Regions from separate parts of the Homo sapiens genome. Here all the other regions are linked to region 2. Evidence: fine-mapped expression QTL. A gene starts in region 2. Each other region holds a variant in brackets. All regions are shown on one strand. Distances are between the middles of the regions. Region 1 has its middle 28 kb from the start of MIR12124. Region 2 holds the start of RAB7A (RAB7A, member RAS oncogene family). Region 3 overlaps ACAD9 (acyl-CoA dehydrogenase family member 9).

Region 1 (8,150 bases), 94 kb before region 2:
AAGGGGGCAGATGCAGAGGCAGCTGGCGTTTTTGTGAGGCGAAGCCTCATTTTCAAGTTCATGGGCTTTAGGCACTCATTGATCTTTGACTTTTTTTCACTCAGCAGTTTCCTTTTTTTCAATTAAAAAAGTATAAAACTTGCATAAAATTTACCATCTTGTGTCAATTCCAGCATCATTAAATACATTCACAATGTTGTGCAAACATCACCACTGTTTACTTCCAAAACTTCCATCATCCCCAACAGACATTGTGTACCCTTTAAAGAGTAATTCTCCATTCCCCTCCCCGCACTCTGTTCTACTTTTTGTCTCTTATGAATTTTCCTATTCTAGGTACTTCCTAAAAGTGGAATGATAACAATATTTGTCCTTCTGTTTCAGGCTTATTTCACTTAGAATAATGTTTTTTCTTTTGAGATAGGATCTCGCTCTGTTGCCCAGGCTGGAGTGCAGCAGCACAACCACAGCTCACTGCAGCCTCTCTAGGCTCAAGCAATCCTCCTGCCTCAGCCTCCAAGTAGCTGGGACTACAGGCGCATGCCACCACACCTGGCTAATTTTATTTTTTGTAGAGATAGGGTCACACTAAGTTGCCTAGGCCAGTCTTGAACTCCCGGGCTCAAATTATCCTCCCACCTTGGCCTCACAAAATGCTGGGATTACAGGTGTGAGCCGCTGCACTCGGCCTTGGAATAATGTTTTGAAGTCTCATCTATACTGCAGCATGACTCAGAATCTTACTCTCTTTTTTTTTGAGACAGAGTCTAGCTCTGTTGCTGAGGCTGGAGTGCAGTGGCATGATCTCGGCTCACTGCAACCTCTCCCTCTCCGGTTCAAGCGATTCTCCTGCCTCAGCCTCCGGAGTAGCTGGGATTACAGGTGCGTGCCACCACGCCCAGCTAATTTTTGTATTTTTAGTAGAGACGGGGTTTCACCATGTTGGCCAGGATGGTCTCGATCTCTTAACCTCGTGATCCACCCACCTCAGCCTCCCAAAGTGCTGGGCTTACAGGCATGAGCCACCACGCCTGGCCTTACTCCTTATGAATAATATTCCATTCTACATACATATCACATTGTGTTTATCCATTCCTCTGTTGATGAACACTTGTTTCCACTTTTTGGCTAATGTAAATAATGTTACCACGAACATGGGTGTGCAAGTATCTCTGAATCCCAGCTTTCATTTCTCTTGGGTACACATCTCAAGAGGGGAGTTGCTGATCCCAGGGTAATTCCATGTTTATCTTTTTGAGGAATCACCAGGCTATTGTCCAAAGTGGCTGCACTGTTTTACATTCCCACCAGTAAAACACGAGGGTTCTGATTTCTCCACATCTTCACTAACACTTGCTGTTTTGTGTGTTAAGTAGCTCAGTGTGGTTTTGATTCGCATTTTCTGGTGGACTGACAGTGATCATTGTATTTTCTTTGGAGAAATATATATTTAAGTCCTTCACTCATTTTTGAATCACTTTTTAAAATTGAGTTATAGGACTTCTTTCTATATTCTGGATATTAATCCCTTATGAGATATATGGTGAGTTTTTACTCTCTTTGTAGTGTCCTTTGATGCACAAAAAATTTTAATTTTCATGATGTCCAATCTGTTTTCTTTTGTCGCCTGTGTTTTTAGAGTCGTATCAAATAAATCACTGCCAAATCCAATGTCATGAAGCTTTCCCCCTATTCAAAGAGTTTTACAGTTTTAGCTCTGACACTTAGGTCTTTGATCCAGTTCAAGTTAGTTTGTGTATATGGTGCAAGGTTAAGACTCCAACTTCATTCTTTGCAGATGGGTATGGGTATCCATATCCCAGCACAATTTGATGAAAAAACTGTCTTTTCCCCATTGAATGGTCTTGGCACCCTTGTCAAAAATCAACTGATCATAGATGTGAGGGTAGTTTCCTTTTACCCAGGAGTGCAGCTAGAGAATCAAGTGACTTAACAAAATCTTGATGATCTCTCCAAGACAACCTAAGTTAACGTCTAGAGTTGGAGGATCCTGTTCTATGGCAAGGAATGAAATTTGGCAAGAAGTTTCCCTGTCCTTCCACAACAGTACCCCAGCAGGCATTCCTATGAGTGCAGAGATGACTAGGGACCCAGGGTACTTTTACAAACTGCAAGCCAAGCTTGCTTCTGAAAGCAGAAGCAACAGATACCAATGGAAACCCAACTACTGAATTCACCACCTCTGTTCGATGGGCCATCCAGAGTGGCCTTTTCCTTCTCTAAGCTAGGGATTTTCTATATAGCCTTTACCCTTTCTCTTTCCTGGCATAAAGTAGGGAGTAATAATACACCCACGGACTATGATTAGACCCCAAAAAGCTAACAAAATTCCAGTTCTGGCTCCCTTCCATGAAACTACAACAAAAATGAGCAAAAAGGGGTATCTTTAGCCCTGCAGTGTGAATGGAGGAAGGACTTCTGGCAAAGGAAAGGGGTACTGTGAGGAAGGGCATTGTGAAGGCACATGGTTCCTTTCCTCAAAGGAAAGAGGTTGGGACAGGATGTGCCATGCTGGCAGTTTTGGGTTCCCCTCCAGACTTCCAGTATCTTCTACCTGGCCAGGAAACTCAGGACATGGAAACTTGGTAGTCACCGTGGACCGGGCCGAGCTCACTTGGCAGAGCAGCAGCACTCAGCACACCACACCCCAAAGCCTGGTCTCTTGGAGCACACGCATTCCACTCAGAAGCTGCCGGGCCACCCTCAGACATAAATTAGTTTCTTAGCATGGGAGCCAGGCAAGCAAGTTTAAATAAGGTGGGTCCTCAATTAGTGGTCACTATGAGAAATTCGGGAGTGTGATCCAAGTGTTGCACTTTCTTCCAATTTTTAAAAGACAAACTAGAGTTGGATTTTGTGTGCTATCTTCCCATTTACAAATATTGGTTGGAAGTATGTAGGAAAAGTGGGTCAAACAAAATCTGTGCAGTGTTGCAACTCAGTGGCGGTGGTGGTGGGGAAGGCTAGAGCATACATTTGAGATCTTTTTTTTTTTTTTTTTTTTTTTTGAGATGGAAGTCTCACTCTGTTGCCCAGGCTGGAGTGGCACTATGTCTGCTCACTGCAAGCTCCGCCTCCAGGTTCACACCATTCTCCTGCCTCAGCCTCCCGAGTAGCTGGGACTACTGGCGCCCGCCACCATGCCTGGCTAATTTTTTGTATTTTTAGTAGACACGGGGTTTCACCGTGTTAGCCAGGATGGTCTCGATCTCCTGACCTCGTGATCTCCCGCCTAGGCCTCCCAAAGTGCTGGGATTACAGGCGTAAGCCACCACGCCCGGCCGAGATCTTTAATTTTTTTTAAGGCCAAACTTTTTCCTGTCTCTTAGCAACCAGCTGTGGACCTTACACATTTGTGGTTCATAAAATATTTAGGGAAATATTTTTATACCAGTTCAACGCCAGCTACACATTAGAATCACCTGGAGGGGTTTTAAAAGCATACCTGAGCCACACTCCGGCACTGTCAAGTTCAGTAAATCAGGTGGGACACAGGCCCTCAGGTGATTCCAACATACAGCTACTCTTAGGAAAAATGAACCTCCCAGCAAGTGCTCAGCTTTCTAGATCTGTTGTTTTCTCCTCTTTACAAAGGGTGGGTTGTACCTCACAAAACTGTTAAAGATTAAAACGAGTCAGGGGAGGGGAAATTTGGAATGAAGCCAGATTTAAGGGAAGAAAAATTAGACAGTGACGGCTATGAGAGCTAAGATGTACATAAGGGAGGTGATAGGGGAGGTGATGTGCTGAGCTGTGTCCCCCTCCAATTCCTA[T/C]GTTGAGGCCTAAACCCCAGTACCTCAGAGCAAGTGACTGCAGTTGGAGACGGGACCATTAAAGAGGTAACTAAAGTAAAATAAGGTCATATAGTTGGGCCCTAATCGAATCTGACTGGTGTCCATAGAAAGGAGATTCAAACCCAGAACGGCAAAGAAGGGAAGACCATGTGGAGACACCAGGAGAGAGGCATCCACAAGCTGAGGAGAGGGGTTGAGAGGAAACAACCCCGTGGACACCTGGATCTCGGACTTCTATCATCCAAAACCAGGAGAAAAGACATTTCTGCTGTTGAAGCCCTGCAGCCTCGTATTTGTTATGAGAGTCCTAGCAAATGAATACAGGACACGTCCATGAGAAGAGCCAATGGAAAAGAAGGAAGTGGGCGCTGAGATGTGCTGGTGGTTTGGGACACAAGCCAAGGCTCTAAAATGGTCAGCCATGTTCAGTACCAGGGTCAATTCAGATCAATGATCATCAAAAAATCAAAGCACATAAGAGTGAAGATAAGAATCGGAGTCAGTGCCAAGGCCAATTTTTTGGGTAAGATCATTTCAATGTTGGGGTGGGTCAAAGTATGGATGTCTGTGTTCAAAGGATAGTTAAGATCAGGATCCAAGTAAAGTTCAAGGTCATTGTCCGTACAATGGCAGGATGAAGGTAAGGCAATTTCAGAGTCAGGTAGGGCAAGTTCAGGATGATTATGTCAAACTGAGGATCCATGGTAGGGTCAAGGTCAAGTGCAAAGTCAAGTAAAAAAAAAAACACAAACTAAGACATGGCTAGAATGATGTTCAAGGTGATAATCAGAGTCGGCCTCAAAGTCATGTCAAGGTCCAAATGGCTCAAGCTCAAGGTAAAGTTGAAACGTAGGGTCAGAATGCTGGTCAGCACCAGGACAAGGGTTGGGTCCAACGTCATACCAAGGCTAAGGATTAGAGCCAAGAGGATGAAGGTCATTTTAAGGCCAGAGCAGTTCAAAGGCAGACTATCATCAGTGGCAGGATGAATAAGGTTAAGGATAACTTAAGAATGGTTAAGGTCAGCTAGATTCAGGTATAAACTTAGGGGAGGTATAAACTTATGGCCAGGACAATGTTCAGGGTTGGCTTCAGATTCAGATTCAGGGCCATGAAAAGCACCAGTGTACTGGATTCAAAATCAATCAAAGTCAGTTTCAAGGACAAGTTTAAAATGAGGGCAAAACATGGTCAGGGTGATGGTTAGGGTGAGGACAAGGGTCAGAATTAGGGCTAGATTCAAATTCAAGGTCAAGTTCATGCTTATTTCAGCTTAAGGTCAGGATGACTGCATATGAGATTCAAGATCAGGATCAATACGCCTGTAATCCCAGCACTTTGGAAGGCCAAAGTGAGCGAATCATTTGAGGTCGCGAGTTTGAGACCAGCCCAGCTCACATGGTGAAACCGCCTACTAAAAAATACAAAATTTAGCTAGGTGTGGTGGTGCACACCTGTAATCCCAGCTACCCAGAAGGCTGAGGCAGGAGAATCGCTTGAACCTGGGAGGCGGAGGTTGCGGTGAGCCAAGATCACGCCACTGCACTCCAGCCTGAGCCTCCGTCTCAAAAAAAAGAAAAAAGTCAAGGTCAGGACACATGGGTCAGTTTCAAAGTTAATCCAAGGTTACCTCAAGGGGATCACGGTCAGGATGATTGTTAAGTGTAAATCGATTAGAATGAGTCTCATGTGGTAATGAAAAGAATCCATATTAGTACAAGTACATCCAGTCTCAATCATTTGATTCATGCAACTCCTAATTGCATGCGAGTGACAACTGAGAGGAAGGTAAGCAGGACACACACATTCCTCTCTAGGGCACATTCTTACTGCAAGGTAGAGTGAACCAAGATGCACCTACTTCATGCTATTGGAAGGCATCATTTTCAGTGCAAAAAAGCTTAGTCTCAGACATTTATCTTAAGGTGAAATCTTATTGCAGGTCAGTGTTAACTGATATCAATGTAAGCAATGCAATACACATTAACCTCAAAGGCATATTCTTACTAAAAGATGAGAGGAATCAGAATGAACCTGAGTAGGAGTTTGGATGAGAATTCCTGTTAGTACAACAAACTCAGGCATTCTTATTAAAACCAACTCCTCATAGCTTATTGAGGGAGATGACAGTCGGCACAGCAACACACTCACATGCAGGCAGAATAAGCTGGGATCAGAGGAAGGAGTACTACTGAAACAAGTACATACTAGTACAACAAACTCATTCCCAGACGTCCTTTCCAAAACTTTTTGTGTGTGTGTGTGTGTGTGTGTGTGTGTGTGAGATGGAGTCTCACTCTGTTGCCCAGGCTGGAGTGCAGTGGCGCAATCTTGGCTCATTGCAACCTCTGTCTTCCAGGTTCAAGCGATTCTCCTGCCTCAGCCTCCCAAGTAGCTGAGGCTACAGGTGCCCACAACCACGCCCGCCTACATTTTGTATTTTTATTAGAGATGGGGTTTTGCCATGTTGCCCAGGCTGGTCTCAAACTCCTGGCCTCAGGTGATCCACCCACCTTGACCTCCCAAAGTGCTGGGATTACAGGTGTGAGCCAGTGTGCCTCGCCAAAAATAACTTCTGAATATTTGTTAGCGCAAACTGAGATGGATGCAAACCCAGCAACACACTCATCTCTCATTCTCACCTCAAGGCAAATATGAATGAACCCAAACAATCCATAGTACTGCAGACAAACTCAGTCCCAGATATTCTTCACAAAAGTAAATCCTTACTGCTTATTCCAGCAAAATGACAAGTTCCCCTCTTTTGAGAGAAAACACATGCTTATGCTGAATCTAAATAGGAATATAGAAAAAGGCACTGTGATGACTCTTAATGAGCATTAAGAGTCATCACCACTCCCTAATCTCAAGTACCCAGGGACACAAATGCTGCGGAAGGCCGCAGGGTCCTCTGCCTAGGAAAACCAGAGACCTTTGTTCACTTGTTTATCTGCTGACCTTCCCTCCACTATTGTCCTATGACCCTGCCAAATCCCCCTCTGAGAAACACCCAAGAATGATCAAAAATAAATAAATAAATAAATAAAATAAAATAAAAAAATAAAAAAAAGAAAAAGGCACTGTGTTGATGCAGAGCTCAGTCTCAGCCATGGCTCCCTATTGTGGTTAAGCTGAATCCCTTAGATGAACATTATACAATTTAGGGTTAAAATATGACACCAAGCTCAGCCATCAGGCTGATGGGACATGAGACTAATTAGTCCCAGGTCAGAGAGTAAGACCTATTGTCATGGTAGGGTTCCATGTTAACTTCAAAGTCAGGTGATGATTAGGGTCAGGAGGTGGGTCAGAGTCAAGGTCATTCAGCAGTGAACGTGTTTAGGGTAAAGTCAAAGCCAGTTCAAAGCCAAAGCCATTAAAATTAGGGTAAGTTATGATAAGGACAATGGTTGAAATCAGTCAATTAAAGATTACATTCATCTCAAGCTAAAGCAGGTTAATATCAGGATGATCATCAGTTTTAGGATGAAGGTCAAGCAGGTCAGAAGTCAAGGTCCATTTTAATGTCACATACAAGGTCAAGACCAGTGGAACACAATCAGAGGAATAGATGCCTGATTTGCAGAGGTGAGCATCACACAAGGGTCCACACCCTGTGGCCCAGTCACTGGGCCCCAAGCTGGAGAGAACTCTGCTCCTCTAGAGGACAAACACCTGATGAGGCCCAAGCAAAATATAGGACCAGAGAAGATTTAAGCCACCCAGCCAGGGTGGAATTGCACTGTGGATAATCTCACATTGTGCAGCATCTGAACTTCTAAACTATGCTATTTTTAACACATAAAGTACATGCCAAGAGGAGCCACGAGGAAAGAAACCAGCTGAGGAGCCTGAGAAGTGGAAATGTAGAAAAGTGTAGCAAAGTAGAATTCAAGATCTAACTCAATGAGGCACTTCTGCAAAACCTAAAGTGACTCACGACCTGAACTACTACTATTTTAATAAAATTGCTTCTAAGTGGCAACTATTCCATTCCAGGTGGGGGCTTACATATGTTGGAATACAGGGCCTCTGCTGCCAAATCTTCCTCTCCTGTGACAAATGCAGAATTACACATCTAAGTGTTAGCAACTAGGTCAACTAAAAATAAAACACATAACACATGACTAGGTTACAGTTACACCTACAGGATATGCATGGCTCAGAGTCCCCAGCAGTTTCTGGCTGCTCTCCTAAAGGGACAATGCGTTCTCCATCCATGGTCCTCAACCTCCAACAATGTGATTAAAATACACCCACCCCCGCCCCCGGAAAAAAAAACAAACAAAAAAAAACTAGGGACAGGCACTACAGGACCAGATATGAGAGGGCCTT
Region 2 (8,183 bases):
TCCCTTTGAAGACTTTTTTTTTTTTTTTTTTTGAGAAGAAGTCTCGCTCTGTCGCCCAGGCTGGAGTGCAGCGGCATGATCTCTGCTCACTGCAAGCCCTGCCTCCTGGGTTCACGCCATTCTCCTGCCTCAGCCTCACGAGTAGCTGGGACTACAGGCGCCCGCCACCACGCCCGGCTAATTTTTTGTATTTTTAGTAGAGATGGGGTTTCACTGTGTTAGCCAGGATGGTCTCGATCTCCTGACCTCATGATCCACCTGCCTCGGCCTCCCAAAGTGCTGGGATTACAGGCGTGAGCCACCGTGCCCAGCTGAAGACATATTAAAAGCTAATCAAATAACCAAAATTTTTTGGCTTCACTTGGCAGTGGGGTCAGAAAACTGATTCAAAGCCACACTTTACTATAAAGAGTTGTTCTCTGATTACAGGGTTGGTGAGCTTAGACACAGTTGGCACTAAAAAAAAATTTTAAAAAAAATTGCCCCAAGTGGTTGCTAACTACCTAGAAGGATATACTAATAAAACTATTTTTAGACTATCTTCTACATTCCACCCTCTGTTTACTTATGCAGTTCTACCACAAATGTAAAATCCAAATCTTCCCTTAAAGAAGGGAATCTAGAAAGTTGTGGGAGATAGGGTAACACAGCTTTTCTATGTAGAATGGTACTGAAACTATGGCCAGTACACTATCAGTGCTACATTAAACTTTCTTGCCAGCTGAAGAAAAAAATCCAGCATGCCAAATGTACCTTTGCTCAAAGACATGGCAGTGCAAGGTAATTACAGTAGTGACATGGACTACCTCTTGAGTGAACAAAAAAATGCTACCAGAGTCGGCCGGGCGCAGTGGCTCATGCCTGTAATCCCAGCACTTTTCGGAGGCCGAGACAGGCGGATCACCTGAGGTAGGCAGTTCGAGACCAGCCTGACCAACATGGAGAAAACCTGTCTCTACTAAAAATACAAGATTAGCTGGGCATGGTGGCGCATGCCTGTAATTCCAGCCACTCGGGAGGCTGAGGCAGGAGAATGGCTTGAACCCGGGAGGCAGAGGTTGCAGTGAGCCGACATCGCGCTATTGCACTCTAGCCTGGGCAACAAGAGGGAAACTCCGTCTCAAAATATAAATAAAATAAAATAAATGCCACTAGAGCAAAAGGAGAAACAAGTTGAGTGTTGAAGGTTACTCTTTAAAAGATGTGATTAATTAGAAACTGTAATATTATCTTCTACACTCTCTGAAGAGCAAACCATACAAATGCTGTTGTTAAAATTAACAAAGCCTTAAAGTTAGCCAGAAGAACACCATCCTTTGGGTTACTACTGATTCACCAGCAGAGATGAGAAATAACTCTTTCCAAAAAGCCTCAAGTTCTACCGCCAAATTATTCCACAACAGAATTTCTGGCCAAGATCATTCACCTTTTAAAAATTCCTTGAGGACAGGAACCACGCCTATCTCCCTGAGTCAATGTCCCACAATGCCTGATACATTGCTGATACTCAATGGATACTCAAAATACTTAATGAATGAATAAAAAGGTGCCTATCATTACTCTAAACTCAAACATTATATAAAGCCACAGTACTTATTACTCACTTAAATATTTTAGGCTAGGTAGCAAAGTTAAAAAAAAAAAAGACAAATATGAATACAACAGGATTGTGAACGCTAAGCTTTAACTTAGCCGGTCCCTTCTTCAGAAGAAGTACTCCTAACTCACCTTCCAGTCCTTAAACTCAAATCTGAACAAACCTTCCCAAGTTTGAAGAGAGAAACACACTAAGAGGAGACTTTATTCATCCATGGATGAGAAATCATGTGCTTCATCAGCTGCTTAAGTCACAAGAAAGAGACAAGAGTCCGTTCTTTAGGAAACCAAAGATGCAGTATTTTGAATAGGGAAGAACCAGCCGGCTGGACAGCCATCAACTAAGGTTGTAAGAAAGGTTCACTAGGCAGGTTTGCCAGGCCTACCTGCAAAATTTTTCAAACCTCAGTTAAGTACCCTGCCGGTATTCAAGAGCTCCTAATTCGGTGACACTACACCACAATATGTGTGATAAGTCGCAAACGGCATTTCTTATGGCTTTAAGGGAGAACTGATGCTACCAGAAAGACTTTCAAATGACATCAATAGAAAGAAAGGAGGTGGTGGGAGGCACTGAGGTACAGATACCAGGTAGCAAAAGATAAACCAGCAAGCTTCAGGGGTACGTGAAAGCAGTACAACCTAGAAATTTAATACAGTGCTCTGGAGTCTGACTGCCTGGGCTTGCATCTCTGCTTCGTAACTTATTAGCTGTGTGACCTTGGCCAAATGGCTTAGCCTCTCTGTTCAACTTCCCACTGTGTTAAGTGGGCACAACAGTGGTACTTCAGAGGGTTGTTCAAAGAACTAAACATAATGATCTGTTAAAAGGTCTTGCCACGCTGCCTAGCATACAATAAACGCTCAAATATTTGCTGTCAATATTCTCAATATTCCCCTTATGACCCCATTAGGTATCAAGCCTAAAATGAATGCAGAAAGAGGCCCCAAACACGGTCGGAATGGAAACACAACTCTACATCCAACTACCATCTTTCCTCGATTAAGTTGAAAAACTTCTCTCAGGATTTACCGTAACATGCCTAGGACAAAAAGCTCCCTGTCTCCCAGCGCCAGAGGCGCCTCAATGTACACAAGTGTCGAGGCGAGCCCAGCGCACGTGACCTGACTCACTGCCTTGACTCAGTTGCCGTCAGGGAACTCCCACTAACAGGGTCAGGCTGTTCAACTGAAGAACCGGATGGGAACGCGGCTCGGCCCCCAGCGCCTGTGACCCATGCCCGCCGGGTGGGCACGGCGGCGGGCGGCGTGGGCTCTGACACCCTCCTGCTCGCCGCGCTAAGGAACTCCACTGGCCAGCGCGTCCTGCCGCGGCGCAGGGCCGCCCAAGTCAAGGAACCCTCTCGGGTCTCTGAGATCCAGGCCAACAGTAAACAGAGCGTCCGAGACGGGTGGCCGGGGCGGGCAACCCGGCCAGAGGTCACGCCCGACGACCTCCGACCTCTCCAAGCCGGGTGGGGTCTTGGCCTGCTCCGGGGGCCTGAGCGATGCCGGGTGTGCCCGCGTGGCCAGGGCTGGGACTGGAGCCTGCCCAGGAGGACAGGGAGGACGCGAGGCCCTGGCGACCGAGGGGCTGAGGGGGGGGATGGGGCCAGGCCGCCGGCCGGGCTGGGCCCGCTGCTTACCGCGGCCGCTGCGCTGGGGGCTCCGGGCCGGGCGCGTCGCGAGGGCTCCCGCCGAGGAGGAGACTAAACGGAGGACAGAAGCGAGAAGGTCCAAGTTCTGGTTCCAGGGAACTCTCCCGAGCTCTCCAAGCCGCCAACTCCGCCGCTGCCGCCGCCTCAGGCTTTATGGCCAAGACTCCAGGCCCGCTCCCACTTCCGCCACCGCCGCCGCCCCGAGCGGAAGTACCTGTCACGAGACGCTCGACGCCAGGGTGCGGGGGAGGAGCCCCGCCTCAACCTTGCGTCACGTTCCGGCTGCCTCGGGACTGAGCCTGGATCTCGTGCTACAAACATGTCTGCCCCCAAATGGTTGTCCCCATCTTTGAGGCTCATACAAGGAGCAGGACGGCGCCATGTTGGACCCACAGACAGATTCCCTCAGCCATCCCTCCTTACTCCAGAATAAATAATGCCACCGAAGAGGGGACAAGGGGTAAACTGGCCATTCCAGTTGTGTCCTTCTTCGAAAGGCATCATTTATCCTTACTTTAATTACTTAACCAAAAATTATTATCACCATTTTACAAATAAGGAACTGAGACTCAGTATATCATGTCACTTGGTCTAGCTCAACACAGAAACTGGTGGAGCGAGGTTTTGAACCAAGATCTGTCTGATGCCAATATGTGTTATCGTTCTAGTAGACTGCAAATGACTACAGCAATTGTGTGGCTCGGTGATAGAGACAGGAGAAATAGGCACTTTGTCTGGCAGAGGAGACAGCCCAAGAAAATGGAAAATGAGCTAAAGCCTCTCTGAACTTAGTATTAGAGAAGATGTGATAAAGATGGACCGGGTAGAACTCTTCTTGTAAGCACAGAGCAGCCTCCCAAGCACCAGCCCCATCCGAACACATCAGGATCCACTCAGAATTTTTGCCTCCATCTTCAACAATGCCCTCTCATAGTCTTTTCTTATTTTGGTTCATGCAAGCTCCATTCTTTCAATTGTTCCATCCAAAAACCTTGCAATTGTTACAGTAAGTAGTCAGACCTGAGCAGGGCAGGAGAGGGGCCACTCCCCGACCAGCAATGTGAGGCAACCATGACGTGGTTGTCAGGTTAAGCTGTCTCTCTAAAATAATAATTGGTTGCAGCCAGACCAGAGAAAGGCAGTCTCCCAATAGATAAAAACACCTAAAACTGGTGATCAGCAGCTTCCCGATAAGATCTCAGGAGTTGAGGGGTCTGGGGAAAAAAAAAATCTCAAAAGCTAGGCAAGCAGTCTCAACCCTGAGATGGTACAATGTCTGGGGTTTCCCCTACTTTTTCAACCAAAATTGGCTCTTTCCCCAAAACCCTCACCACCTATTCTCCTGTTTTCTCTATGTGTATTCTGAAATGGCCTTGCACACTGCAGAACCATCCGCCTCTGGGGTAAGTCCACTCTTTCTCTGCTTTCACTTTGCATGTGCCCAGGAGTTCAAGACCAGCTTGGGCAACATAACAAGACTGTCTCTTCCAAAAGATAAACAAAAAAGAAAAGAGAAGGCACACATCTACATCAGACCTCTGCAGTTGTACTTCTCTCTACCTGGAAAGCTCTTCCTCCAGGTATCTGCTTGGCCACTCCCTCACTTTCCTCTGGTCTTGACTTTAAAGTAACCTTTTCAGTGAAATAGCCTTCCCTATTTAAAACTGAAGTCCCTCTCCCTGTCACCACAATACAAACACAAAAATTGACATCTCCCTACTGCTTTTCTCCTCTGTTTTTTCTTTTTTATTTTCTTTTTCTTTTTTTTTTTTTTGAGAAAAGTTCTTGCTCTGTTGCCCATGCTGGAGTGCAGTGGCATAATCAGGGCTTACTGCAGCCTTGAACTTCTGGGCTCAAGTGATCCTCCTGTCTCAGCCTCCTGAGTAGCTGAGACCACAGGCGTGCACCACTATGGCTGGCTAATTTTTTTTTTTTTTTTGTAAAGAGAAGTTTTCACTATGTTACCCAGGCAGTCTTGAACTCCTGGTGTCAAGTAATGGTGTCAAGTAATCCTCCCGACTCAGCCTCCCAAAGTTTTTCCTCTTATACTACTCACTTATTTGCATATTGTCTGTCTTCCCCACTAGAATGGCAGCTCCACAAGGCAGCTATTTTTGTCTGTCTCATTCACTGCGATATCCCTGATTCTTGAAACAGTGTTGGGGTACAGTAGGTGCTCAATGTGTACAATTTGCAGAGTATTCAGGGGAATGAAAACTGAAAATAGTTTCAAAGGCCAAGAGTTATGATAATTCCACCCCGTTAGGCAGCCAATCAAAATGCTAGGTTTGAAGGTAAAGTAGCAACTGGGAATGCAGTAGTCCTCATCCCCAGGTTTGGCAGGGCTGACTGCAGGATTTGAGCATCTGAGTCCTAGAACCAATCCACCACAAATAGCAAGGGACAATTATACCAGAAAAGGCAGAGCACAAAAATAAAATGGGACATGTGGGCCCCAGCCTTCTAAGAAGCCTTCTGAGAAGGCTATTCAGATGCAAACATGGACTATTTCCTATGGGAAAGAAAGGACAACTTAGAAGAAACCCATGAGCCAAGAGGATAGAGCCAGGAGCTGCAGATAATCATTCCCAAGGAGCAGGAGGGGACTCGAATCAAGGAACTGGCATCACGTGCCTCGCTGATTTCAGAATTACTATGACCCAGTGGCAGCTGTCGCTCCTGTTTTTTCCCCTTTTGAACAAAAGTGTCTACTATGCTTATCTTCTTCTTGCCAACTCTGTATGCTGGGTCCGTGGACAGCAGATAACATCTCTAGCTCACAGGCCTTCAGAGGAACAGTGCTCAGAGCCGTTCTTAAGGAATTATATCTGAGGAACCTCATCCACATCTGGACCCAATTTACATGGCAAGATCCATTATGAGCCAGTGATGTATTGGGATTGAGACTTTTAGGGTTCTTGGGGGAGTTAAGTAGAGCAGGGCCTCCAGTAACATCATTTCAATTATAACATTGATGAGAAAAAATTGATTCCTGGCTGGGGCCCCTGTCTGTGTAGTTTACACTCTTTCCCCATGTCTGAGTTTTCCTTGGTTCCTCTGGTTTCCTCCCACATCCCAAAGATGTGCCCTTTAGGTGAATTGGCTTGTCTGAATTGTCCCAGTCTCTGTGTGTGTGTGTGTGTGTGTGTGTGCACGTGCGCACACGTGTACACAATGGGCTGGCATCCTGTGCAGGGTTGGTTCCTGTCCTGAGCTGCCAGGATAGACTGGCCACCTGTGACCCTGAGATGGAATAATTGGATAAATAATTATCTTGCTCATTTTCATTAATCTGTCTTAAATATATATATAGTTCACATTTACTTTAATATTTAATATTAGAAGTGTTTTGGTCTTTACCAGCCTGACCAACATGGTGAAACCCCGTCTCTACTAAAAATACAAAAATTAGCCGGGCGCTGTGGCACGTGCCTGAAATCCCAGCCCAAATCCAAGGGACATCTTGGCTTTAGCACAACCTACTCTCTTGGGAACTAATCAATTCCTGTGAGAACTCATCCAGCCTCACCAGAGCCAGAACTCACTCACTCACTCACTACCTAGAATGGCACCAAACTATTCATGAGGGAACCCCCCCACAACTCAAATACCCCCAACTAGGCCCCACCTCCCAAATCTCCACACTGAGGAATCACATTTCTTTTTTTTTTTTTTTTTTTTGAGACAGAGTTTTGCTCTGTCGCCTAGGCTGGAGTGCAGAGGTGCTATCAGCTCATTGCAGCCTCCACCCACTGGGTTCAAGCAATTCTCGTGCCTCAGCCACCCGAGCAGCTGGAAGTACAGGCGTGCACCACCATGCCCAAATAATTTTTGTATTTTTAGTAGAGATGGAGTTTCACCAAGTTGGCCAGGCCCATATTGAACTTCTGGCCTCAAGTGATCTGCCCCCCTCAGCCTCCCAAAGTGCTGGGATTACAGGCGTGAGAGCCACCACTCTCAGCCTGCCTGGATCACATTTCTTTTTTTTTTTTTGGAGGGGGCAGAGTCTCGCTTTGTTGCCCAGGCTGGAGTGCAGTGGAGCAATCTTGGCTCACTGCAACCTCCATCTATGAGGTTCAAGTGATTATTGTGCCTCAGCCTCCCGAGTGACTGGGATTACAGGCACCTGCCACCATGCCCAGCTAATTTTTGAATTTTTAGTAGAGACGGGGTTCGCCGTGTTGGACAGGCTGGGCTCAAACTCCTGAGTTCAAGTAATCTGCTCTCCTCAGCCTCCTAAAGTGCTGGGATTACAGGTGTGAGCCATTGCACCTGGCCTGGGATCACATTTCAATATAAGATTTTGGGGGCACGAACACATCATATCCAAAGCACAGCAGGTATGTTGGAGGAGATTAGGAGTGAGAAGTTCAGTTCTGGAAATGCTGAGACAGAGGACTTCCGTGAAACATCCAAGTGGAGATGGGGAGGAGGCAGTTAGACATTTTGGGCTGAGGCAGAGATGGGAGTTGGGTTTCTGGGTCCTTCAGGGTAGCCTCAGCTGAAAATAGAAATTTAAGAGTAGATGGAAATGAAAGTAACGGGTGTTAACAGGATTGCCCATGGAGAAAGTGGACAAGTACATCCTTCTTTCAACAAACGATTTACTGAGAATCTCCTATATGCTAGGCTTTTTGTTAGGTTCTAAGGACACAAGGAAAACAAGGCCATTGATATCAAGAGCCTTACTACTTAGTGTGGTACACAATGTACAAACGTACACACACACACACGTCCCTGCACAATTTTCATTCAAATTTCTATCAATAGGGAACTGGTAAAAAAGGTATGGTACATCTTGACAATGAAATACTGTGCAACTATAAAAAAGCAATAAGATAATTCTCTATATATTGGTATGGAAGGATCTCCAAGAGATATTGTTACATGATAAAACCAGATGCAGAAGAGTATCGGGGAACCTGCCCC
Region 3 (8,183 bases), 160 kb before region 2:
AGAGAATGAAGAGCCCTGGAATCAGTAACTACATGGGTAACTACAAGATCCTTTTTTCCTATTTTAAAAATTGCTGGCCGGGCACGGTGGCTCAAGCCTATAATCCCAGCACTTTAGGCCGAGGCGGGTGGATCACAAGGTCAGGAGTTCGAGACCAGCCTGGCCAATATAGTGAAACCCTGTCTCTACTAAAAAAATATAAAAATTAGCCGGGCATAGTGATGCGCACCTATAGTCCCAGCTACTCAGGAGGCTGAGGCAGGAGAATCGCTTGAACCTGGGAGGCAGAGGTTGTAGTGGGCCAAGATAGCGCCACTGCACTTCAGCCTGGGTGACACAGTGAGACTTCGTCTCAAAAAAAAAAAAAAAATTGCTCTAAAAGATAAACCAACCATTTAAGAATTGTAGGCCTTTTTGCAGACATTGAAAATTGTAAAATTGATAAAGAAATGCAAATTAACTTGTAATGAATCATAGTTCTAAACCTGAATTAAAACTATACAGTTTCTTTTGAGATGGAGTCTTGTTCTGTCGCCCAGGCTGGAGTGCAGTGGTGCGATCTTGGCTCACTGCAAGCTCCGCCTCCCGGGTTCACGCCATTCTCCTGCCTCAGCCTCCCGAGTAGCTGGGACTACAGGCACCTGCCACCACGCCCGGCTAATTTTTTGTATTTTTAGTAGAGACGGGGTTTCACCATGTTAGCCAGGATGGTGTCGATCTCCTGACCTCATGATCCGCCCATCTCGGCCGCCCAAAGTGCTGGGATTACAGGCATGAGCCACTGCGCCCAGCCAAAACTATAAAGTTTCTAAAATAAAATACAGGCCAGGCTGGGCGAGGTGGCTCTCACCTGTAATCCGAGCACTATGGGAGGCCGAGTCGGGCAGATCACCTGAGGTCAGGAGTTCGAGATTGGCCTGGCCAACATGGTGAAGCCCCTTCTCTACTCAAAATACCAAAAATTAGCCAGATGTGGTGGCACGCACCTATAATCTCAGCTACTCGGGAGGCTGAGGCAGAATCGCTTGAACCTGGGAGATGGAGGTTGCAGTGAGTCGAGATGGCATCTCAAAAAAAAAGGAAATACAGGCCAGGCGCAGTGGTTCATACCTGTAATCCCAACACTTTAAGAGGCTGAGGTAGGAAGATCACCTGAGCCCAGGAGTCTGAGACCAGCCTGAATAACATAGTGAGAACCCATTTCTACAAAAAACTTTAAGAATTATTAGCTGGGCATGGTAGCGTGTGCCTGTAGTCTTAGCTATGCGGGAGGCTGAGGCAGAGGATGGCTTGAGCCCAGAAGTTCAAGGGTTGCAGTGAGCTATGATCACACCACTGCACTCCAGCCCAGGCAACAAAGAAAGACCCTGTCTCTTAAAAAAAGAAAAAGAGGAAAAAAGGAATGTTTATGGCAACTTTTTTGGTGATAGCTAAAATCTGGATACATACCCTATGTTGATGAATACTTGAATGGATAAACAAATCTTGGTATATCCATAGAAAGAAATATGACTCAGCATTAAAAAGGAAGCCACTACCAATACATGCACCATGGATGAAATTCAAAATTATGCAGAAAGAAGCCAGACAAAATCACACATAATATAATTCCAAAAAATACGAACTAATCTATAGTGAGAGAAAACAGATCAGCAGTTGCCTGGAAACAGGGGGGAAATAAAAGAGGCACAAGGAAACTTTGACGGGTAATGAGTACGTTCACTTCCTCTGTTGCACTGATGGCTCCTGAGGGGTACTCTCTAAATACAGTCATGCGTCAGGTGATTCTCTCCCTGTATGAACATCAGAATGGACTTACACAACCTAGGTGGCAGAGCCTACTACACACCTAGGCTATATGGTATGGCTTATTGCTCCTAGGCTGCAAACCTGTACAGTAGGCCGGGCGTGGTGTCTCATGCCTATAATCCCAGCACTTTGGAAGGCTGAGGCGGGAGGATCACTTGAGCCCAGGAGTTGGAAACCAGCCTGGGCAACACAGTGAAACCCCATCTCACTGTTAAATATTTTTTGTTTTTTTTTTTTTAAGGAAAACAAAACAAAACAAAAAAGCTGTACAGCATATTACTGTGCTGAACACTGTAGGCAACTGTAACACAATGGTAAGTATTTGTGTATATGAACACAGCTAAACATAGAAAAGATACAGTAGAAATATGGTATGATGATCTTATGGGATCACCACTGTATATATGGTCTGTCATTGACTTGAATGTCATTATGTGTCACATGACAGTGTGTGCAATTTATTGTAAATCAATTATTCCTTAATTAAACCTGAAAAAAAAAAAAACCTGACAAACCACATAGGAAAAGTTTAAATAAAAGAACAAGAGACTATGGGAGCTAAAAAAAGATACAAATAGGAAGATAAACACTAGGAAAAAAAGCAGAAATAAGTATTTCTAAATTATAAATTATGTTTATATATAAATAAGCAACTTTTAAAACTAGCAACATATAATTTGTGATCACCAGGTGTGAAATAAGAAACAAACAAAAACCAAGCAATGTAATGACAGCTGACAATTTGGCACTTCTCAAAGAGGTTCTGGGGGACCTGAGCTGCTTCTAGGGGGTCCCACAGGATCAAAACTAGTTTTTATTTTTTTTTGAGATGGAGTCTCACTCTGTCACCCAGGCTGAAGTGCAGTGGCGCCATCCCAGCTCAATACAACCTCCACCTCCCGGGTTCCAGTGATTCTCCTGCCTCGGCCTCCCCAGTAGCTGGGATTACAGGTGGGCACCAACACACCTGGTTAATTTTTATATTTTTAGTAGAGACAGGGTTTCACTATGTTGGCCAGGCTGGTCTCAAACTCCTGACCTCAAGTGATCCACCCACGTCGGCCTCCCAAAGCGCTGGGATTGCAGGCATGAGCCACCATACCTGGCCTAAAACTACTTAAGATGTTACTTGCTTTTAAATTCTAATTCTCTGAAGACTGTACAGTGGGGCGCAGTGTAGTGTATTTAACGTTTTGGCTCAGAGTCCAATATATAGTCCAAAGTACCATGTTCCCAGAATTTATGTACGGCCTTTATATGAATAAATCTTGATCAAGGATTCAGAAAAAAGTCTTAGGTTTGCATATAAGTCACTCAAAGCAGTAAAACAGGCTACTTGGATTTCCAGCAATATTTGTGCTTTTATTCTTGGCCATTACTTTTGGGGAAGGGTTGTCTGTCCTGGTTGGTTTTCATAGAGGCCAGTTGTGGGAGGATGTGATTTTTCTGTGTCTCCAGATGACAGTGCCTCTATTTCCGTGGCACTGCTGGCTGCCTACAGCTGTCATTCCAGAGGGCCCTTTGTCCACAGTGATTAGCCTCCTCTTTGAATGTACATGAAATAGGTGTATTTTTGTATGTTCTTTTCTCTGCTTTGCCCTTGGATTTAACTTCCTTTTTGAATTCACATCATGGCAGCTGAATGAACATAGTTTTTATTCCAGCATTTGCTATTTATTCCAAGAGACCTTTGTTCCTGTGAGAGGGAGTGGGTTTGGTTTGCAGTGGTTTCTTGCATATATATATATATATATATATATTTATTTATTTTTTTATTTTTATTTTTATTTTTTTTTGAGACAGGGTCTCACTCCTGTCGCCCAGGCTGGAGCTCAATGGCATGAACACAGCTGACTACAGCCTTGACTTCCCAGGCTTGGGTACCTTCTCCCACCTCAGACTCCCAAGTAGCTGGGACTATGGGCGCGCACCACCATGCCCGGCTAATATTTTAAATTTTTAGTAGAGACAGGGTTTCGCTCCATTGCCTAGGCTGGTCTCAAACTCTGGGACTCAAGCAATCTGCCCCCCTCAGTCTTCCACAGTGCTAAGATTACCAGTGTGAGCCACCGTGCCCAGCCGGTTTCTTATATATTTACATCTCTGCAAATACAAAGATGACAGTTATTGCTGACAGAGCCCTATGTCCTGGAAGTGTGTGTTTCTTGCTTTAAATGCACGTGTCAGGACAGGTGCGGTGGCTGACACCTGTAATCCCAGCACTTTGGATTACAGGCAGATCATTTGAGGTCAGGAGTTCAAGACCAGCCTGGCCAACATGGTGAAACCCCATCTCTACTGAAAATACAAAAATTAGCCAGGCGTGGCGGTGCGTGCTATAATTCCAGCTACTCAGGAAGCTGAGGCATGAGAATCACTTCAACTGCAGAGGTTGCAGTGAGCTGAGGTCGTACCACTGCACTCCAGCCTGGGTGACAAAGCAAGAGCAAGACTGTCTCAGAAACAAACAAACAAAAAGCATGTCTGAAGATTATAAAAAAAGACAGTTAAAAAAAAAAAAAGACTGCACAGTGGACTTTTCCAGAGGTTACGTGCACAAACAGGTATGAGAATCCAGCTGTCTTCTAATAAGCCAAACATTAAAAGGACTTGCATAACTTTCAACCAATGTCACTCTTTCCATCAATTTTTTTCTTTTTTTTTTTTTAACTTACTTTTCTTTTTTTTTTCTTTTTGAGACAGAGTTTCACTCTTATTGCCCATGCTGGAGTGCAGTGGCGCGATCTCGGCTCACCGCAACCTCCGCCTCCCAGGTTCCAGCGATTCTCCTGCCTCAGCCTCCTGAGTAGCTGGGATTACAGGCATGTACCACCACGCCCAGCTAATTTTGTATTTTTAGTAGAGATGAGGTTTCTCCATGTTGGTCAGGCTGGTATCGAACTCCCGACCTCAGGTGATCCACCCACCTCAGTCTCCGTAAGTGCTGGGATTACAGGTGTGAGCCACCGCGCCTGGCCTGATTATTTTTCAAAATATTTTTCATTAGCTGGCGCGGTGGCTCACGCCTGTAATCCCAGCACTTGGGGAGGCTGAGGAAGGCAGATCATGAGGTCAGGAGTTCAAGACCAACCTGGCCAACA[T/C]AGTGAAACCCCATCTCTACTAAAAATACAAAAATTACCCGGGCGTGGTGGTGCATGCCTGCAGTCCCAGATACTTGGGAGGCTGAGGCAGGAGAATCACTTGAACCTGGGAGGTAGAGGTTGCAGTGAGTCGAGATTGCACCACTGCACTCCAGCCTGGGTGACAGAGTGAGACTCTGTCTCGGAAAAACAAAAACAAAATATTTTTCATTAAAAATATTATGTTAACATGTAATGGATTTATTATTTTTAAACAAATGAACACAGTATATTTTATTTTTTTTTTTTAGACAAAGTCACACTCTGTCACCCAGGCTGGAGTGCAGTGGTGCAATGTTGGCTCACTACAATCTCTGCCTCCTGGGTTCAAGCAATTCGCCTGCTTCAGCCTCCTGAATAGCCGGGATTACAGGCACCCGCCACCATGCCCGGCCAATTTTTGTATTTTTAGTAGAGACAGGGTTTCACCATGTTGGCTACGCTGGTCTTGAACTCCAGACCTCAGGTGATCTGTCCCCGTTGGCCTCCCAAAGTGCTGGGATTACAGGCGTGAGCCACTGCACCCAGCCCCACAGTATATTTTAAATTTCTCAGTTTTAATTTCTAAGAGGGGCTAGGCATGGTGGCTCACACCTGTAATCCCAGCCCTTTGGGAGGCCAAGGTGGGAGGATCACTTGAGCCTAGGAGTAGAGACCAGCCTGGGCAATATAGTGAGAACCTGTCTCTATGAAAAATACAAAAAAATTAGCTGGGCATGGGGGTGCGCACCTGTAGTTCCAGCAACTCAGGAGGCTGAAGTTGGGGGACTGTTTGAGCCTGAAAGATGGAGGTGGTGGTGAGATGAGATGGTACCACCACACTCCAGTCTGAGCAACAGAGCTAGGCCCTTTCTCAAAAAAATAAAGTAAAATAAAAATAAAATAACCCCTAAGATGGCAAATATTGATAGATAAAATTCATATAAACAAAAGCTCTCCAGGATCCTACTATTAGGGAAGACCTGCTGTCCATCCACCATCACTGAACTCTCCACCAAGGCCCTGGCTGGAGGACCGGCCAACAGCTCTGAGAGAGGGACCTGAGGTCAAATGCTGCCTCACCATGCAGGTGCCAAACTGTGGCTGGTCCACAAATCACTCTTTGTTTACAATTACCAAAGTACAGAAATTGAAACTCAACCTTTAGAAACACTAAGAGCAACTGTACACTGCCACAACAACCAACACATGCTCCATGGGCTTGTATGGTGTGTGGCCTTGGCTTTTTGCCATCTAATTTTTTTAGTTATTCATTTTTATTATAGCTTTATGGAAGTGTTGACCTGGAACAGTATGGAAATGTTTAAAGTGCTCCTGAACCACAAATACAATGAGAAGCATTTAACTGGATGTTTTTTAATTAAATGGCAATAGGGATGAAACCTAAAGCAAAATATTATGAGTGGAAACCATTTCTCCCTCAAGAAGACTTCTCCTATGTATGTCACTTCTAATATAAATATCAACCAAATAGCCCTTACAATGGAAATCGGCAATGGTAAAGAAAACCATACATACCCTCTTCAGTGAAGAATTTTTCCACGGGTCCCAAGAACTGATTGATTTCATTAAGTTCATCTTGGCTAACTTCTGGAAATGGGAAAACTTCTTTCTAAAAATAGTAAATATTTTCTAAAAAATTTAATTTTTAGCACACTCCCATCACGGAAATATCAGTTAAAAGGGAAGGAAAAACATGTGCTCCACTCCACCCTGGCCAGCGGGACATGACGTACTGAAGGAACTGGAAAGCAAACCTCACAAGGTTCCTGAGATACAGAAACTATGTGCAGGCTCCACCACCCACATCCATCTCCCTCCCCTGTTCAAATAGGTTCTTCCCGATTTTCATCAGTTTTCCTTCTCAGTACAAGGGATGATAATAGTCCCATGAAACAAGGAGCCCAAGACTAACATTTAGAAGCCTGGGGGTCTGGTCCTTGATTTCAGGCTTACTCATTATGTGGCCTTCACCAAATCCCTTCAGCTCTCTAAACTACCCCTTTCTCACCCATAACATGCAGGTAATATTTACTCAAGGCCCTTGTGAGAATCGTGGAAGATAGTGGATGTGGAAACTCCTTACTGAAATGGACAATTCTACATCAATTATTGTGTGAGCTCAAAGATGCTATGCTGACAAGAGCACATCATGCTTACCAAGTCTCATCGATCCCTACAGCCGCTGTCTCTCCTGCTCACAGACATCTGCTCCCTGTGCTGAGCCCCTCTGGACTTTTGGGCTCTGCTACCCCTTCAATTGCCAGCATGACATGAGCTTTGGATGTGGGCTTCAGGCTGTTGAGCAGTGATGTCCTGAGTCAGAGCTATAAGCCCAAGCATCACCTGTCCTCATGGCGCCTCTCACCAAGTGTTCTAGAGAAGTCTTGGGGAGACCTCAACCTTCTCCTCAGACCTTGTACAGCTAATCAGCCAACAGATTTCTCTACTCTATCAATATGCTCGCACTGCTTTCTCCTCTCTGGGCCCAGGACCACAGGCTTATAGGTGAGTCCCTAACTAAAAGTGACAGCCAACTTAAAGGAATCCCTGCCTCCATCCATTCCAAAACCACCCTGAAGGTGGTATAGAAAAAAAAAAAGGTTGGAGGCCAGGCACGGTGGCTCACGCCTGTAATCCCAGCACTTTGGGAGGCCGAGGCGGGCGGATCACGAGGTCAGGAGTTTGAGACCAGCCTGACCAACATGGTGAAACCCCGTTTCTACTAAAAATACAAAAATTACACGGGCTTGGTAGCACGCGCCTGTAATCCCAGCTACTCAGGAGGCTGAGGCAGGAGAATTGCTTGAACCCGGGAGGTGGAGGTTGCAGTGAGCCGAGATTGCGCCATTGCACTCCAGCCTAGGTGACAGAGTGAGACTCCATAAAAAAAAAAGAAAAGAAAAAGAAAAAAACAAGCTTAGCTGGTTGCAGTGGCTACTGCCTGTAATCCTAGTCCTTTGGGAAGCTGACGCAGGGGGATTGCTTAAAGCCCAGGAGTTCAAAACCAGCCTGGGCGTGGTTGCACACGCCTGTAGTTCCAGCTACTCAGGAGGCTGAGGTGGGAGGATCCCCTGAGCCTGGGGAGGTTGAGGCTGCAGTGAGCTGTGATTGCACCACTGCACTCCAGGGTGGGCAACAGAGTAAGACACTGTCTCAAGGAAAAAAAAAACAAGAAAAAAAAAAAAAAACAAGCTGATGGCTCCATCACTCTGCAGCCTTTTATATCAAAGC

The links. PIP is the estimated chance that this variant, and not a neighbour inherited with it, causes the effect.
Region 1: its variant is the best candidate, but not a certain one, in a credible set for the expression of RAB7A in whole blood (TOPMed, PIP 0.52).
Region 3: its variant is the best candidate, but not a certain one, in a credible set for the expression of RAB7A in spleen (GTEx, PIP 0.69).

Annotation. Positions count from the first base shown.
Region 1 is chr3:128,814,937-128,823,086 of GRCh38, reverse strand. No RefSeq gene overlaps it. Among named protein-coding and RNA genes, the nearest start is that of MIR12124, 28 kb to the left of the region's middle. The variant T/C (reference allele first, on the strand shown) is at 3,795.
Region 2 is chr3:128,721,419-128,729,601 of GRCh38, reverse strand. It overlaps RAB7A (RAB7A, member RAS oncogene family), which reads right to left and starts at 3,419. Exons shown (of 6, transcript NM_004637.6): 1 at 3,243-3,419. RefSeq lists a silencer at 2,996-3,285 and enhancers at 2,552-3,536, 3,566-3,695.
Region 3 is chr3:128,883,031-128,891,213 of GRCh38, reverse strand. It overlaps ACAD9 (acyl-CoA dehydrogenase family member 9), which reads right to left. Exons shown (of 18, transcript NM_014049.5): 2 at 6,468-6,561. Among named protein-coding and RNA genes, the nearest start is that of ACAD9, 7.5 kb to the right of the region's middle. The variant T/C (reference allele first, on the strand shown) is at 4,911.